Regions from separate parts of the Homo sapiens genome. Here region 2 is linked to region 1. Evidence: fine-mapped expression QTL. A gene starts in region 1. The other region holds a variant in brackets. All regions are shown on one strand. Distances are from middle to middle. Region 1 holds the start of ASB2 (ankyrin repeat and SOCS box containing 2). Region 2 overlaps ASB2 (ankyrin repeat and SOCS box containing 2).

The links. PIP is the estimated chance that this variant, and not a neighbour inherited with it, causes the effect.
Region 2: its variant is the best candidate, but not a certain one, in a credible set for the expression of ASB2 in blood mononuclear cells (TOPMed, PIP 0.89).

Annotation. Positions count from the first base shown.
Region 1 is chr14:93,972,966-93,980,965 of GRCh38, reverse strand. ASB2 (ankyrin repeat and SOCS box containing 2) reads left to right here and starts at 4,396. Exons shown (of 10, transcript NM_001202429.2): 1 at 4,396-4,532. LOC107984663 (a long non-coding RNA gene) reads left to right here. Exons shown (of 4, transcript XR_001750861.2): 4 at 1-3,541. RefSeq lists an enhancer at 5,344-5,915.
Region 2 is chr14:93,950,822-93,958,821 of GRCh38, reverse strand. It overlaps ASB2 (ankyrin repeat and SOCS box containing 2), which reads left to right. Exons shown (of 10, transcript NM_001202429.2): 3 at 1,952-2,056; 4 at 4,339-4,505; 5 at 5,315-5,470; 6 at 7,578-7,823. Among named protein-coding and RNA genes, the nearest start is that of MIR4506, 6.5 kb to the right of the region's middle. RefSeq lists enhancers at 2,425-3,129, 3,130-3,836, 3,947-4,924. The variant C/T (reference allele first, on the strand shown) is at 3,455.

The DNA of each region.
Region 1 (8,000 bases):
GACTTGGCGTTGACTCACAGCTCAGCTCCCGGGGGCTCTTGGCTGGCTCTTCCTCCTCCACTCTCCTTCCCTCCTTCTGGAAGAGGTGTCACTGTCACAGAAACATGTGCTGGTCTTGGTTCCCCCTAGACCCGACTAGGTATAGGGCCCTGCAAATGGCCTCTCCAATACATACATGCACCCCTTTATTCCTGGGCATTCAGGCTGACATAAACAGAGAGGGATGTCTGGAAGGGAGAGACCTAAAGTGTGTGTGTGTCTTTGTAGCCACCGGCCAGGCTCGGGTTGGCAGGCAGAACCAAGGCCCTTCCCAATTCTGCCTCAGGGACTGTGGGCTTGAGTGTGGGCACACATGTCCAACAGTTATGGAATGGGCATCTCTTATGTGCCAGGCACTGCTATAGACACCGACACACAGCAGTGAACAGAAGGACAAAGTATTCTAGATGGAAGAAACAGGCAATGCACATATGGGAGATAAATATAGAATAGGTCAGCAGGGAGGATAATGCCAGGTGAGGGGGTAGAGTAAGGGAGGGCAGGTTCTAGTTAGGCTTGGGAGAGTGAAACCCACCTTGGTTCCAGGTGTGAGTCCTGGGGCTTTCCTGTGGTGGCCACATTCTTCTTCCCACTCCCTTGCAGGTTGATCAGTTGCATAGTTTCTGCCTCTGCATTTTTATTCCCCTTCTATTCCCTTTGTTTCCCCACAAAAACCCTCCCTGGAGGGCTGTTCCCAGGGTAGCTGGTGGGCCTTGTGCAAAGTTAGGGACCCCGGAAAGGCTCCAGAGATCACTGAGGCCAGGGCTGCTCAAATGCTCACCGTAATTTGTCATCAGGGGTGTGCAGATTAAAACTGCAACAAGATGCCACGGATGCCCATCAAAATAGATAATATGAAAAAAGATGGAGGCTGGGTGCGGTGGCTCGCGTCTGTAATCCCAGCACTTTGGGAGGCTGAAGCGGGCAGATCACCTGAGGTCAGGAGTTCGATACCAGCCTGGCCAACATGGTGAAACCCCATCTCTACTAAAAATACAAAAAAAATAGCTGGGCGTGGTGGTGGGCACCTGTAATCCTAGCTACTTGGGAGGCCGAGGCAAGAGAATCGCTTGAATCCAGAAGGTGGAGGTTGCAGTGAGTCGAGATCTCACCACTGCGCTTCAGCCTGGGCAACAGAGCAGGACTCCATCTCAAAAAAAAAAAGAAAAAAGATGGAATCTACCAATTGTTGGTAAGGATATAGAGTGACTGGAACTCTTATGCCTGGTTGATGGGAGTGCAAACTGACACAACTTTGGAAAGCCATGTGACAGTTTCACTCAAGTTGAAAGAAGACCTAAACTCTGACCCAGTGATCCCCATCCTAGGTGTATACCCAAGAGAAAGGAGTATGAATATTTACCAAAAGACATGTACTAGAATGTTCATAGCTACACTCTTCATCATCGCCCAAAACTGGGAACCACCCAGATGTCCATCAACAGTAGAATGAATAAATTGTGATATATTCATAGCATGGAATACTACACAGCAATTAAAATAACAATCTACAACTCCATGAAACAATATGGGCAGGTCTCGCAATGTGTTGTTAAATGAAACGAGACGCAATGATTTCATTCACATGAAGTTCAAAGGAACCTGTCCTGCTAGCAGTCAGGAGAGTGGTCACCCCTGGCAGGAGGTGGTGGGTGGTGGGAGCTCTTGAGGTGCTTGTAATATTCAGATGTTGGGTGTGTCCAGTCTGTGAAAATGTACTGGGCTGTACATATGTGAAAGTTGCACTTTTTTGTGGGTATACTGAACTTTAATAAAAAGTTTTTAAAAATCAGTCCTGTTTGGGCCTCGACACAGATTATTTAAATCAGAATCTCTGGGGTGGGGCAGGCATAGGTAAGTGTAATATGATTCTAATGAGCAGCTAGGGCCAGATCCCAGCACAGTTCTCTTTCCTCTGGGTCACACTGCCTGCCCTCCACAGGCTCGAGTCAGATGCTTGAACGCTGTCCCTGCCTTTGTCAGGAGAGTGTCTGTGCTTTAGGACATCAGCGTCTGATCCCATGGGGCATGGTTCCCACTGGCATGGCTTTCAATGTGTGAATTATTCTGCCCCCAAATTGCCAGGTGATCTCAGAGAAGGCACAGAACCTCTTGGGGCCTGAACTAGTAAATGAGGGCTCTGAACACCAGGATAGCCAAGAGTCCCTCCAGTTAGAGGGACCACAATTCCCCTGTAAGACAGAATCTCAGCCAAAAGGAGCTTCTGGTCTGATAAACCCAAGAACTGGGAAATGACTTGGGACTACATTCTTTTGTAAAGAGTGAGGTAAAAAAAAATTTAGTTTGAATCTGTTTTTCTTCTTTTAAATGGAAACAAAGACAAGTGGAAAGTCAGAAAAAAGTTCACGGGTAGCACACGAGAGCTGAGGAGCATGCAGCTGAGACCGCAGTGAATATTTGGTGAGTGTCTGGGTTGATTATTACTACATATCAAACTACCTCAATCCCCAGTGGCACGAAACAATCCTTTTATCATAGCTTGTGGTTTATGGGTCAGGAAGTTGTGGGTGGTTTGTCTCTGCTCCACGTGGCATTAGCTGTGGCAGCTGCAGGTGAAGGATCCACCTCCGAGAGGGTGTCTTCACCCCTCTGCCTGGTGCTAGATGCTCTGGGGGCCCTGGGTGTTGCTTGCTTGGACTTCCTCACAACATGGCAGCTACAAAGCATCTCATGACCTAGCCTTGGAAGTCTCAGGACATCATTTCCACTGCATTCTATTGTTAAGTCCATCACTAGGCCACCCCATATTCAAGGGGAGGGAAGGAATAGACACATCTTGGATGGAGTTTGGGGTGTGTATGTGTGTGTGTGTGTGTGCATGTGTGCATGCCCATGAGGCAGAGGGCAACCTAGGAGGGGCCTGGCCTGGCCACAGCCCACCTTCCAGGTCAGATTGGGAAGGGGCAGGTGGTGGGCAGGAAGTAGAGGAACCTGTGTTTTGCCTCCAGCAAGGAGCCCAGGAAAGCAGCCCGGCCTCGGGGAGCCGTCCCACAGAGACGTCTCTCGGGGAACATCCTACTGGGTAGCAGAGTCTCCAAAAAGTAAAAAGAATCTGACAGCCCCTTCTCTGCCCTTCTCCTACACTCCCTCCATAGCACATGGGTCTGGAAGGGGCTGAACTTGAGCTAACTTTGAGGGCCACCCAGCCACAGTGGCCTGGGAAGACTGACCCAGCTGGGGTGATGAGCAATTTGGCAGGTACCAGGGAAGCTGGGGGACTGCCTGGGGACCACTGGTGTCCTTCCCATCTTTAGCACCAGTCAGACCTCCAGAACCTTGACTCAACCCCGTGGCACCTTGTATACTGAGATGTATTTCCTTGTGGAATATTCGAAGTGCGTGTAAAGGCATCCTGAGGTTTCCTGAGTTTGAATCAGTGAGAAATCATGCTGTGGCCATCATAAATCCACATCCTCCAAGGGGAATGGGCCACTGAAACAAAAATGATTCTCCCCTTAGAGGAACAGACCAAGTCATGTTTCTGGACCCCTAACTCTGAGGCATGAGATGTGAACACACGGGTGGGAGAGTAGGTGCCTGGCCATGTCCTGTCACATCCCGGATGCTCAGTGCATGTGGCTGTGTATGTGTTGTCTTTGACATTTGACCTATTCCAGAAATGGGACGTTCTTCCCTAGACCAGGAGGAAGGGCTCTCTTCTGTTGTATATCTCTGCCCAGGGCTTGCCCGCATGCCTCTGTGTTTGTTTGTTGGCTCATTTGTACCCTGGCCCTTTGTATCCCCAGCCCCACCCCACAGTATCCAGCAGCCAGACACCTGCTATCCCCAAATGCTGCCACAAGCTCAGCACCAAACCTTGATTTCTCCAAAGCCCTTTTACGTCAACTCCTTCATCTCCTCTCTCCCCTTCTTCCCTTCTCTTTCACTCCATCCTCTTCCTTCCTGCTGTCTTGCCTTCCCTCCTTTGTTGCCTTTACTTCTCCTCTTCCCCTTTCTTCCTCCTCCCTTGCTCCTCACTCTTTGTCTCCCAACTATGCGTCTCCTCGTCCTCGTTCCCTGCCTCTGTCTCTGACCCACTGCATCTCTCTCCTGTCTGGCTCTCCCCTGGGTAGTTCCAGAAACATACCCATATATGGCCTCCATGTCAAGGATCACAAATGATGACATCACGTGAGGGCCAAAGCTCCGGGATCCTCTCTGAAGTGAGAGTCTGTATTCGATGCACCCGGAGGAACGGAAGGCAGGATTGCAGCTTCCTCAGTGCAACCTCCAAACAGGAAATCTGAGATGTATAACATCTTATAGTTTGGCTTGTCAACGTTGGTCATGCGGTGGCCCCAAAATAAACTCCCTGCTTCAAAGGACAGCGTTTCAGAACTGCCTGGCAGAGCAGCCAGAAGCTTGGGGCCAGGGCAGAAGGAAAACTCGGGGAGCATGTTCTGAATTAAGACACTTTCAAGAAAATCCTTTGTATTACCCCTGAATTGTACCCTTGTTTCAGAGCCTAACAGGTAATGCATGCTTTCAACTTTCTTATACAGATCTTGCAAAAGATTCTTTGGCTGGTGGGGATTTTCGGCTGCAGTACTTACTGGAAACCGCTTGTAGTCAAACTGTGATGTTGCTTTTCCCTCTCTCTCGTATTTTCTTGAGTTATACAGCACGCTGGTGACTTTCGTTTTGGATGCAATGAACAGAGACTCAGCAATTTGCATGTACTTACCCATTCTTCTGGAGGACTCTGGCTCAGAATATCACTCTGCTGTGCACTTCTAAAAATGGAAATGCAAAAGGACTTATCAATGATGCTATTGTTGGGTCTGTAGGTCTTGGGCGGTATCTGTGTCAGACAAGTGACTTTCAGAAATGCTTTCAGGCCAGGCGCACAGATAGAGGTTTTCATGAGTGGGAGTTAATTTAATGTAGCTGTTGCAGAGTGCCTAGGCATGCACGGTATTGTGGGAGACCATAGCAGCCAAGGTGCCATGTGCTCTGCTTTCAACTGTTTGGGGATTAGGAGAGGAAATGGAGGAATGTTATTTATGTGAGATCCAACAAAGCTGTGGAATGCAGGGATGCAAGAATACCATGCATGTGTGTGCACACGCATATGCATGACACATTTAAGGAGGCCATGGCCTTTGAAAGGATGGGTGGGATGCCTCAGGGTGGAAACAGAGACCTCCAGGTGGAGGAGCAGCTTGGGCAAAGGCAGGGAAGTCAAGGGACCTGGGGTGATGATGGAAAGTGAAATGTGGCTCTGGCAAAGGGTTCTGCATGTGAAAAATGGGGGTGAGGCTAGAAGGGGAGGCCAGAGGGAGAGGCACATCCTTCCAGGCCAAGCAAGAAGTTGGAACACTTTCTGAGAGTTTTTGAGCAGAGGACGGCATGCACATAGCCACATGCATTGAGCATCTGGGATATGAAGGGACACAGCCAGGCACCTACACTCCCACCCGTGTGTTCACATCTCAGGCCCCAGAGGTGGAGGCCCAGAAACATGACTTGGTTTCTGGTGCCTCTAGGTGGAGAATCATTTTCATTTCAGTGGCCCATTCCCCTTGGAGGATGTGAGATTTGGCTTCGGTGGCTCTTCGGGAAGCCAGGGGTATGCACTGGAATGAGGAGGCAAGGAGGCTGGTGACTCCTAGGGAGGGCAGGTAAATGAGGAAGGCCTGAAGCAGGGCAGAAGCTGAGCCCCTGCACAGGACAGGAATGCTCTTCTGAAGATAAGCTTGTTTCGTGAGGCGAGGGCTTGAGGGGGCTCAGAGGGACGCAGGCAGAGCCAGCTGGGGCCAGCACCCCCGCCACAGCCCTGACCTCTGCCTGGGCAGAAGCACCATGAGGCAGACAGTGGCAGATGCTCGAGGCACTTCCAAAACAGTTGGACGGGTCCTGACAGCTGGTGGCAGGCCCATGTGCTGCACAGCGTCCCCAAGAAGCTGGCAGCAGCTCCGCTGGGTGCCATGCTGGTTTGCATCATCTGTTCTTGCACAAACAGGCCGGGTCATGAGTGCCTTGTGGTGGCGGGGGTGGGGGACACTGTCTAACCCACGCACGGTGACCTCACAGTGAACAACAACACAGGCCATACCAGCAAGCCTTTGTTGAGCACTGGCCCAAGCTTGTGTGCAGATTTCTCTCACTGACTTCGGTCAAGGCTACCATGAGTTACAGGTGATCGTTACTCCCATTTTCAGGTCTGGAAACAGGTTATGAGAGCTTAAAAGTCTTGCTTAAGGCTGGACGGCTGCAAGTGTTGGAGTCAGGAATCTGACCTTTTGGTCTGCAAGGTCCACATTCAAAGCCACAGCGTCCTGTGGCCTCTCAAGGTACTGTGGCAGTGGTAAACAGGACCATCGTGCACCCAGGGGAAATGTCTCTGGCACACTCAAGGCATCATAAGGTGCCCGTATATTGTGGACAGGCTAGATCCAAAGAGCCTTCCCAAAGGAGGCACAAAAATATCTCTGGGCCTGCCCAGTGTCCTTCCATTTCTGCGCTGCAGAGGATCAGGCTGCCCACAGGAGCCAGCTGTCACAGGAGTGGCTTGTGTCTGTGGTTCTCTTTCCTTAGCACCATTGTTTGGAATAATTAACGCCCAGGAATATAAATGAAGTTATTAAGAGCTTTGTGGTTGGGAGGAATGTTTTTGGGGAGGTGGTGCTGAAATAAAGGTAAATTGAAATTCCTAAACTATCTGTTTTTTAAAAAGAATGGGACATAGAGGAGTAAAAAAGGAGAGAGGAAAGCAGAGAAAAGAGAAGAGAAAGATTTAAATGGAGGCGGGGTCAGGGGAACTCAGAGGAGAGAGGATAAAAAAGGAAAAAGAACCTCGCCGATTTGGGTGAGATCTAACTTAAAAGATTTCCAGCCAGCCCTGCAGGTGAGGAGGGGCTATGGAGGATTCCCCCTGCCCTGCCTGAGCCTTCCCGCTCTGCTGCCTGGAGTTAAAGCCTCCAGAACCCCCTGTGTCTTCTGCCACTAAGGAACCAAGGTGAGGGTCCGCCGTCTTTGTCTGCCCAAAGGACAGAACAGGGCTAGGCGGGCTGTGCTAGGGCAGGGGTGCTGGGGAGGCTCAGAGGTGGACTGACCAGCCCCGTCCACCCCTGTCACCCCCACCTTTGGTCACTGGCACAGATGGCAGATCCTGGCATTGGTAGTGCCTGGGCAGAATATGGGTCAGGGGCCTGGAATCCTGTGTCCTGAGCTGTGAGTGTCTGAGCCACACAGATGCGGGGAGGGGCCAGCCTCTGGCAGGGCCAGGAGGCAGCAGAAGGGCCCTTCACTCAGGAGGTGGAGACGAAGGTCACCCATGGGCCTGGAGACTCAATAGCTCAGGGGCCCAAAGAAGTAAACTGGAAGCTTGACTTTTGTGGGTGCTTTTCTTAGCTGGTGGTGTGGGCACTGCCGCAGGTAGTGGGCATGTCCTGTGCAGAATGGATGCTCATCATTGCAACAGGGCACTTTCCACATTCAAAAAACCTTCTACAGGGAGGTTTTTCCTGTGTTTTTCCTTCTTCCCTCTCTTCCTCTCACCATCATTCTTGCTCTCTTTTTGGAGTGGCATCCTCAATGTACATCAATAAGTAAATAAATTACCAAGACTTTTCGTTAGGGTCTTAGACTCTTCGGGAGAGATTCACCAAGATTTGGATCAGCAAGAGGCGCTCCATTTCAGATGCAGCCTCAGTCTCCTCCTCTATACAATGGGCACAGAGTGTCTGCTGGCGTGGGAGCAGAGCCAGCTTTGGACAGGTTCAAATCCCTGGTTGTCACCTCCTACAGGGTTATGTAGGGGCAGTCACACCCCTACTCCATACAAAGAGAAGAGCCCTGTCTTGTGGAGTCAGCTGGGGCCTGCAGCCCTGAGCACACCTCTTGAGTCACCTCCAGCAGCCCCAGCCCAGCCTTGGAAGCCCCAAGGCCCTGGCACCCGAAAGCCGGGAGCTTGAAATCAGCATCAAAAGGTCTGAGAT
Region 2 (8,000 bases), 22 kb after region 1:
GTGGCCGTGACCCAAGGATCCTGGGAGGTGGAAGCCCAGGGCCTCATCAAGACGACAGGGCTGGAGACAGCTGAGGTGAGCCTGGCCCCAGGCTGCCTCCACCTGCCGGCTGTCTCTCCTTCTCAGGACCAGGCACTAATGCAAAGGACACTGAACCCAGCAGCTGTCAGGGCTGAGGAGGGGCCTTGGCTCTGGGATCTGTTGGACACTGAATCTCTCCACAGCTACAGAAACAGTGTGGACATCCCCAGTCTGGTCCTGGTCCCACTTCTCCATTTTGCAAATAAGGAAACTGAGGCACAGAGCGGGGATGGGGCTTGTCCAAAGTCACAGGGACAGTCAGTGTGGAGGTCGGAGAGCTGGAGAGAGGACGAAAAGGCAGGAAGAGGCCAGGCCTTCAGAGGACAGGGTGGCATCAGGAGCTGGGCGGACAGTGGTAGTCTGAACCTCTGCTCCACTCGCTGTCATGCTGAAGGTGACCCTGCACAGTTAAGTCCCCTCTCACAGCCTCCCTGTCCTCATCTGTAAAAGGCACCCCCATCTACGGTTGATGGATGTGGATAAATGAGGACACATGCAGGCGGTGTCCTGCCCACCCCAGTGCGGGTCAGTAGAAGGCCAGAAGCAGGGGATGGGAGAAGGCAGGTGGGAGGGCGTGACAGCGGCGAGGATGAGGAAGGCAGCCAGGCCTGCAGGCAGCCCTGAGAGCATGAAGCAGAGGGGTGAGCAGGTTCCCCTCCTCCTGCCACCCTTGCTCCTCTCTACCAGGCTCTGGCCTTGCTGGGGTGTACCCACAGAATCTGTAGGCTCTGGCCTAGCCAGAAAGAGTGTGGGTGCTTCTCAGGGTCATAATTACCCCATGCCCCACAGGGTGTGAGTCACTGGTAGCAGAGTCCTCCCCAATCCCCCCCAGAAGAGTGTGGTGAAAGGCCCGGGCCACTGGGGTGTCGAGAGTGCCAGGCCTGACCTACTGGGGGTGGTGTCAGTAGGGGCCATATACCCTGTTCTCACGACAACCCCAGGCCAACTCAGATTTGTGGAGCGGCCATCCCACCTCCTTCCGGCTCTTCCACCCTCACAGGAGCCTGGTGGGTCGGGAAAACTGAGGCCTAGAGAGGCAAAATGATGATAAAATGAAGAGTGAGTACATGTGGAACACCCTCTGTGCCTCACACTCCACTAAGCTCCTCACACCATTCACTTACTCAGGCCTCACCGGCCCTCGAGCACAGGCTGTTTTCATGCCACCTTGCAGGAGCGGGGACTAAGGCACAGAAAAGGTCAACCTGTCTCACGTCACACAGCCAAGGAGTGCCAGAGCCCAGATGTGAACCTGTGTCTGTCTGACTGCAGCCCTGGTTCCGACGCCCTTCCTCATGCATCCTATAATAACACTATAGAGGTTACTATAGTGTCTGCTCCTACCCCTGGGACAAGATCCCCTAATGAGCTGGCAGGTGGGCGTGGGGGGCACAGGTACAGCTTGGCTTCTCAGCTTTGCTCCCCTATCCTCTGCTTTGCCATGAATCTCTCATCCAGCCCCGCAGGGATCTGCCTGGCCAGCAGTGAGCCTGAGCCCCTTTCATCCTGGGACCTGCCGACCACGGCTCACATCCTCCTGGGTGAAGAATGTCACCTTGCTTCCTATCTGCCTCTTTCGTGGTTGGCTGGGGAGGGGGACCGGGGGGTGGGGTGAGGTTAACCTCATTGTTGTCTTATATGGTCATTTAAATCTCCCAGGGCTTCCTCCAAGGGCCAAAAATAATCCGGAGACACAGCAGCTGTGTCCAGCACACAGAGGACCCGGCCATCTGCTTTGGTTCAGAGCCCTGTGTCTGTCAGTCAGTCTCTCCCTGGCTCTCCCTCCATCCTCATTCCTGCCTGAAGCCATGACCCGCTTCTCCTATGCAGAGTACTTTTCCCTCTTTCACTCCTGCTCTGCACCCTCCAGGTCCACTGCACCTCCTGAGAGTTCGCCGGCCCGGGCCCCAATGGGCTTGTTCCAAGGGGTCATGCAGAAATACAGCAGCAGCTTGTTCAAGACCTCCCAGCTGGCGTAAGTGACTCCTGTCTGGCCCCAGGACCATCCAAGTTCACTCCGCTAACTGGGATGGCAGGGAGGGTGGGAAGCAGGCCCACAGCCCCCAGGAGGGCAGAGGGCACTATGGAGGCACCTGCCAGGCACGCTCCTTCTAGGGGTGCCCCCCTGGGGCCCCACTGCTCCTGCTGAGATGGGCTTGGTGGCCACAGACTTCAGTCCTCAAGGAACTTCCAGCCAGGCATGCTGGTGATCCCCCCCTCAGATGCCCCCAGCATGGGACCTGAGTGCTGGAGGAGCCCCATGGGGCTCTGAAACTGGGGACCCAGCACGAGGGAAATTGGGGAGATGGCCTTAGAACCCCAGAGGCCCAGGAGAGCTTGGAGTTGAACTTGATGAGTTGGCTGCACCCTTCTGTTTGTCCCAGTCTCACTTTCCCCCATGCCATCGCTGTGGGTACATCCAAAATGCCCACACCCACAGCCTTTGTTTTGTTTATTTGCCCTTATTTGTGAAGTGCCAGGTGCTAAAATCCAGAAATAATCTAAGCTGCAGGGGCTCTGTTTGCCTGGCACCAGGGGGCAGGGCTAATGCGCTCCTTAGAAAATAATTCTGCCTCCCTCCCCTCTCTGTACCCCTGGAATAGTGACCCCGGAAGCAGCCAAAAGCAAAAGAGGGACCCTATCACTGGAACTGCATTTCCTCACTCAGTTACGTTGTAGAGAAGGGAGGAGGCAATTGGCCAATATTTTCTTTCTCCTTCCCAGCCTTTTTCAAATCCTGTCGCCCTCCACTTCCTTGGTGTGGTGGGTGTGTGGAGTGGTTGACAATCTGGAAAAGGGAGACCCAGAGCTGGTCTCAGCTACTGCCACCTCCTGCATGACTGCCTGAGAGTCGCTGTCCCCTCTGAGTCTCCCTTCTCTGCAGGACACGGCTGGAGAGGGCAACGTGACCTCTAGGGTCCCGTCCAGCTTACTACTCTGATGGCCTGACACCCCCAGAACCCTCCCCCACTCATAGGGCGGGGACTTTGCCTGAGGTCATGGAGAAGCTGTGAATATGTGGGCTGAGGGCTCCAGGGTCCTTGCATCACAGCTGGAGAGACCCAAGCTGGGCGGCAGGTCCTGAAAGTGTTCTCACGACACTGCACCACGCCCTGCTCGCCAAGGCCACGAGAAAAGCCAGCCCTCCTCCCTTCCACTTCAGCTGGGGTCCCTTTGGAGACACTCCAGGAAAAGGGGGGCACATACCCCCACTGGGCTTTTCCTGATGCTGACAGGGGCTGCTCTGGCTGTTCCTAAGTGGAACTCGTCAAGGTGGCAGTGACGGTGCTGATGGGGACCTCAGGACTTATCTGATCAGTTTCCCATCGTCCTTGCTGGGTCTGTTGCTTCACCGGCATCTGTGCTCTGACAC[C/T]ATTAATAACCACAGAGTCTGAGAGTCAGGAGGAAGTGCTGCTCACGCTGGAGGAAGTGGCTGGGAGAGTGCAGGGGCTGGTGGCAGAGACCGCCCAGAGCCCATCCTAGCCCAACATGGCGTGGGTGTCCTGGGAATGAGGCCTGCCTCCAGCCTCACCTTCTCCATCTGGGAAATGGGACTATTGATGCAGAAGCCTCCCCAAAAGTGGATCTGAGAGGCATAGACATCGTGGTTCTCACGGACTCTCCAAGGATGAGGTAGGGAGCTCAGTGAATGAATGAAGGAAGGAAGGAAGCAATGAATGAACAAAGGGACTTTAACAAGCCAAGCAAGGAACGGCTTCACTTTAGCCCTCAAATCTTTTTGACATTCAGAAGTTTTAAACTGTGAAGGCTTCAAATTTATTAATCCTTCCAGTATATATTTTTTTTCTGCAGCTGGATGTACTGGGAGTAGGAATAAGCGACAGGGCAAGGAGAGGAGTTGGAAGACCCCAGAGATATGCTCAGGGTTAAGAGGGGGCCCCCGAGATGGGCGTGCCTGGTAAATGCTAGAGTGCTATACTCAGGGAAAGCATTTAATTATCACAAGTGCCTCACATGTGGGTGGTTAGCCACCCTCTAGGAGGCTGGCATTGTGTGCCTGAATCCTCTTGGTAGAATTGGTTTTGGTATAACATTCCCGGCAGCCATGGAAAGCCACAGAGATGGAGGGATCCCCCAGTCCTCTTGCAGCCACTGGGCTGCAGGGGGCTGAGTGCTCATCCTGGAACCAGCAGGGACGAGGACCGAGTGACTCCACTGCCAGCACTCCTGAGAGAGAGGCCCCCTGGCCTGGCCTTGGCCTGACCTTGAGGACTGACCCACTCCTTCCTCTCACAGGCCTGCGGACCCCTTGATAAAGGCCATCAAGGATGGCGATGAAGAGGCCTTGAAGACCATGATCAAGGAAGGGAAGAATCTCGCAGAGCCCAACAAGGAGGGCTGGCTGCCGCTGCACGAGGCCGCATACTATGGCCAGGTGGGCTGCCTGAAAGTCCTGCAGCGAGGTGAGGGCTGGGCTCTGACGGTGGCAAGAGGTGGGAAAGGGACTAGGGGAAGGGCTGCCGCTCCTGGGGCTTCATGTTCTTTGCCCACAATCATCTTGGGAGAAGGGCAGGCAAGGCTGTCACTTTCATTTGTCAGTTAGTCATGGAGTTACGAGAGGGGAAATGAGTTGTCCCCACCCCCTGCTGCCACCTCTCCAGGCCTCCAAGGACAGGAGAGCCTAATTCCTAGAAAAGGAATGAGGGAGGGCTGACTTTTAGAAGAACCACTGCCAACTTGTTCCAGAATGTCCCAGGGGCTGATTTGGTGTGAAAAATACTGCAGCTGTGCCTGTGCCCGGCCAAGGCTATCCCCCACCTGCTGTGGGACCGCGGGACAGCCGTGCCTCCTCTCTGAGCCCTGTCTTCCTACTGAGCCAGGTTCAGAAGGGCAACTCCTGCAGGCAGGTGTCACCTCTGCCCTGAAGCAGCACAGACCCCACACGGCCCCCGACACTCCAAGAAACCATGGCATGTAACAGTGGGTTTCCAGCAATGGCTGGTGTGAGTTCGAGGAAAGGACAGGAGTATTCGAAGAGGGAGGGGCTCCATTAGGGAAGGCTTCTCAGAGGACGTGGCATCTGAGCTTGGACGTGTACGACCAGGAAGCTAAAATGGCCCTGTGAAAGGGCCAGATGAATGCAGTCTGTAGTTGGTAAATTTCAGAGGATGTCATACATTGTTCTTGAAATTGGGAGGCAATCGGGAAAGCCTCTGTGTTGCGGGGCTGAGTATCTTTCTCCTACATGAATTTCCCGGTGGGCCCTCCCTAGCGTACCCAGGGACCATCGACCAGCGCACCCTGCAGGAGGAAACAGCCGTTTACTTGGCAACGTGCAGGGGCCACCTGGACTGTCTCCTGTCACTGCTCCAAGCAGGGGCAGAGCCGGACATCTCCAACAAATCCCGAGAGACACCGCTCTACAAAGGTGAGGTCCCCACCCCGGAGTGAGCTTTCCTGCGGAAGAATCCAGAAGCTGGGTGAGCAACAGGGAATGTTGCTCCCGTTAAGTGCATAACCCCCAACGTGGCCCTGCTCAAATGCACAATTTATGTAACTGAATCATTCATTCCTGCATGTATTTTACCAACATTTTCCAACTGCATCCCATGGGCCAGGATGCTGAGGGACACTGAGGGCTTGGAGCTGAAAAGCTATAGTCCAACCTGTGCACCCTCCCAGCCCTGTAGGCACCCACACACAGAGAGCAGGAAAGGGCTTGGCAGGAGGCATTGTGGGAGCATGGGGGAGGGGCACCCAGAGGAGGGGTGCCTGAGCTGAACCACAGAGGAGGAATCACCTGCTGGCCAAGCAGCGGGAACCGCACAGGCAAAGGCATGAAGGTATGCGAGAGCATGTACCTCTGGGACATTTGTTTAAGAAAAACAAGGCCTCCTGGCTTACTCAGTACATCATCCATGGACATTTGTTGGCTGCCCTAGCAGTACCCAGAGTCAAAGTCTAAATAATCACAATAGCTAGCATTGATTGAGTGTTTAGTATGTGCCAGGCACCGTTCTCTTATGGACCCCTCATGTCCATCTGCACATGAAGTAGGCACTGCTGGTATCCCCTTTCACATATGAGGACCTAAGGCACCAAGACATTAAATGGGTCGCCCAGGATCACACAGCTTGCAAGGGGTACCCCAGTGGTTTAAACTCAGGGAGGTGGATGTCACACTGCCCTCAACTACTACATTCTAAAGCATCCTGTCCATGCCTACATGCTGAAGCAATCAGCTGGGGTCTTACAAATGATCAGGCCTTTGTACTTGGAAAAATTACAGATATCCCTGATTTCCCATGTGTCTATCCAGTGCTTGGAACAGCTTGGGCAGCAGGAACTGAGTAGTAGGTCACTGGATCCGCTGCAGACCCACCATGGAAGTGTCTTCCCTGGAATCCGTGCCTGCCAGGGCGCCATGGCTATCACCTGGAACCTCAGCTGTCCAAAGGGAGTGCCCAGGAAGCTGGGCAGCCCACAGCCAGAGCTTGGCCCTGGTCTTGCAAGCACACCTACTATGTGCCAAGCACTATGCTCATGCCTTACACACAGTCTCACTCCCATAGCATCTGCTCAAGAAGGTTTTATTCTCTCCATTTTACAGATGAGAAAGTCAAGGCTTAGAGAGGTAGAAGGCTTGGCCTATGGTTCTATTTGAAACAGTACACAGGCAGCCCTCCTCCCCCTGCTGCCAGTCTCCCTGACCCATTCCTCACTCCTCCTCCCACTGACACGGACACAGAGAAGCTTCCAGGGCTGGTTAATTTGGAAAAGTGCCCAGGTGACTCCAATACCACCTGCAGCTCCTGGTGAGAACTCTGGGGCCAGAGCCAAGGGCACGTTTGGGGTCTAGAGAGAGATGAGGCTTATAAAGGAGGTTAGAGCAGGTCAAGAAAGACTTGAGGAGCTGTACTCACAACGTGCATTTTACCCTGAACTAAATTAGTAGCCTTTGCTGGAGCAGGGGGAAGTTCAGCAGGATTATGACACCGCTGACTCCTCATCTAGAAAGATTCTTCCAGCCTTGGTAATGTGGAGGACTGAAGCAGGTACCACTGGAAGGGGAAATGATAGGGACATCCTGGGACATCCCAGGGGACAGAGACCTTCAGCCTGACTACCAGGGTTTGAATTCCAGTTCTGCCACTTAGTATCTGTGTGACTTTGGGCAAGCCACTTACCCTCTCTGTGCCTCACCTTCCTTATCTGTGAAAGGGGATAACATCACTACATCCTTTAAGGGGATTTGGGAGGATTAAATTAGTTAATCCTGTAAAATGTGCTTAGAACAGAGAGCCTGGCACAGAACCAGTACTAGGCATATGAATCAGCAAGTATTCTTGCTAATGTTAGTATCAGTATTACTTTTAGTCGCCTATCCCAGGTTCAATGCAGGGATTGGAACTTAATACACATGCAGTGGAAAGCTGAATGAGTGGATGAGTGAATGGACAGGCGAATGAATGCAGTCTCTGCTGGCCAGTTCCTGCCAGGCCCTGCTGACCATCCCTGCTTCCCCCTGAGCACAGCCTGCGAGCGCAAGAACGCGGAGGCCGTGAAGATTCTGGTGCAGCACAATGCAGACACCAACCACCGCTGCAACCGCGGCTGGACCGCTCTGCACGAGTCTGTGTCTCGCAATGACCTGGAGGTCATGCAGATCCTGGTGAGCGGAGGAGCCAAGGTGGAATCCAAGAACGCCTACGGCATCACCCCCTTGTTCGTGGCCGCCCAGAGTGGACAGTTGGAGGCCTTGAGGTTCTTAGCCAAGTACGGTGAGTGGCTAAGGGTCCCTAGGTCATGGAGTCCCCAAAGGGCACACGGGAAGGATGTCAGAGGTCAGCTCTAAGGGAAGGCGAGTTAGGGGTCATCTTGTGCGCACACTGATGGAGTGAGAGTTTCCTCCTAGAGTGCTGTGTTGAGAAAGATGCTGAGGCTGTGTCCAGGCTCAG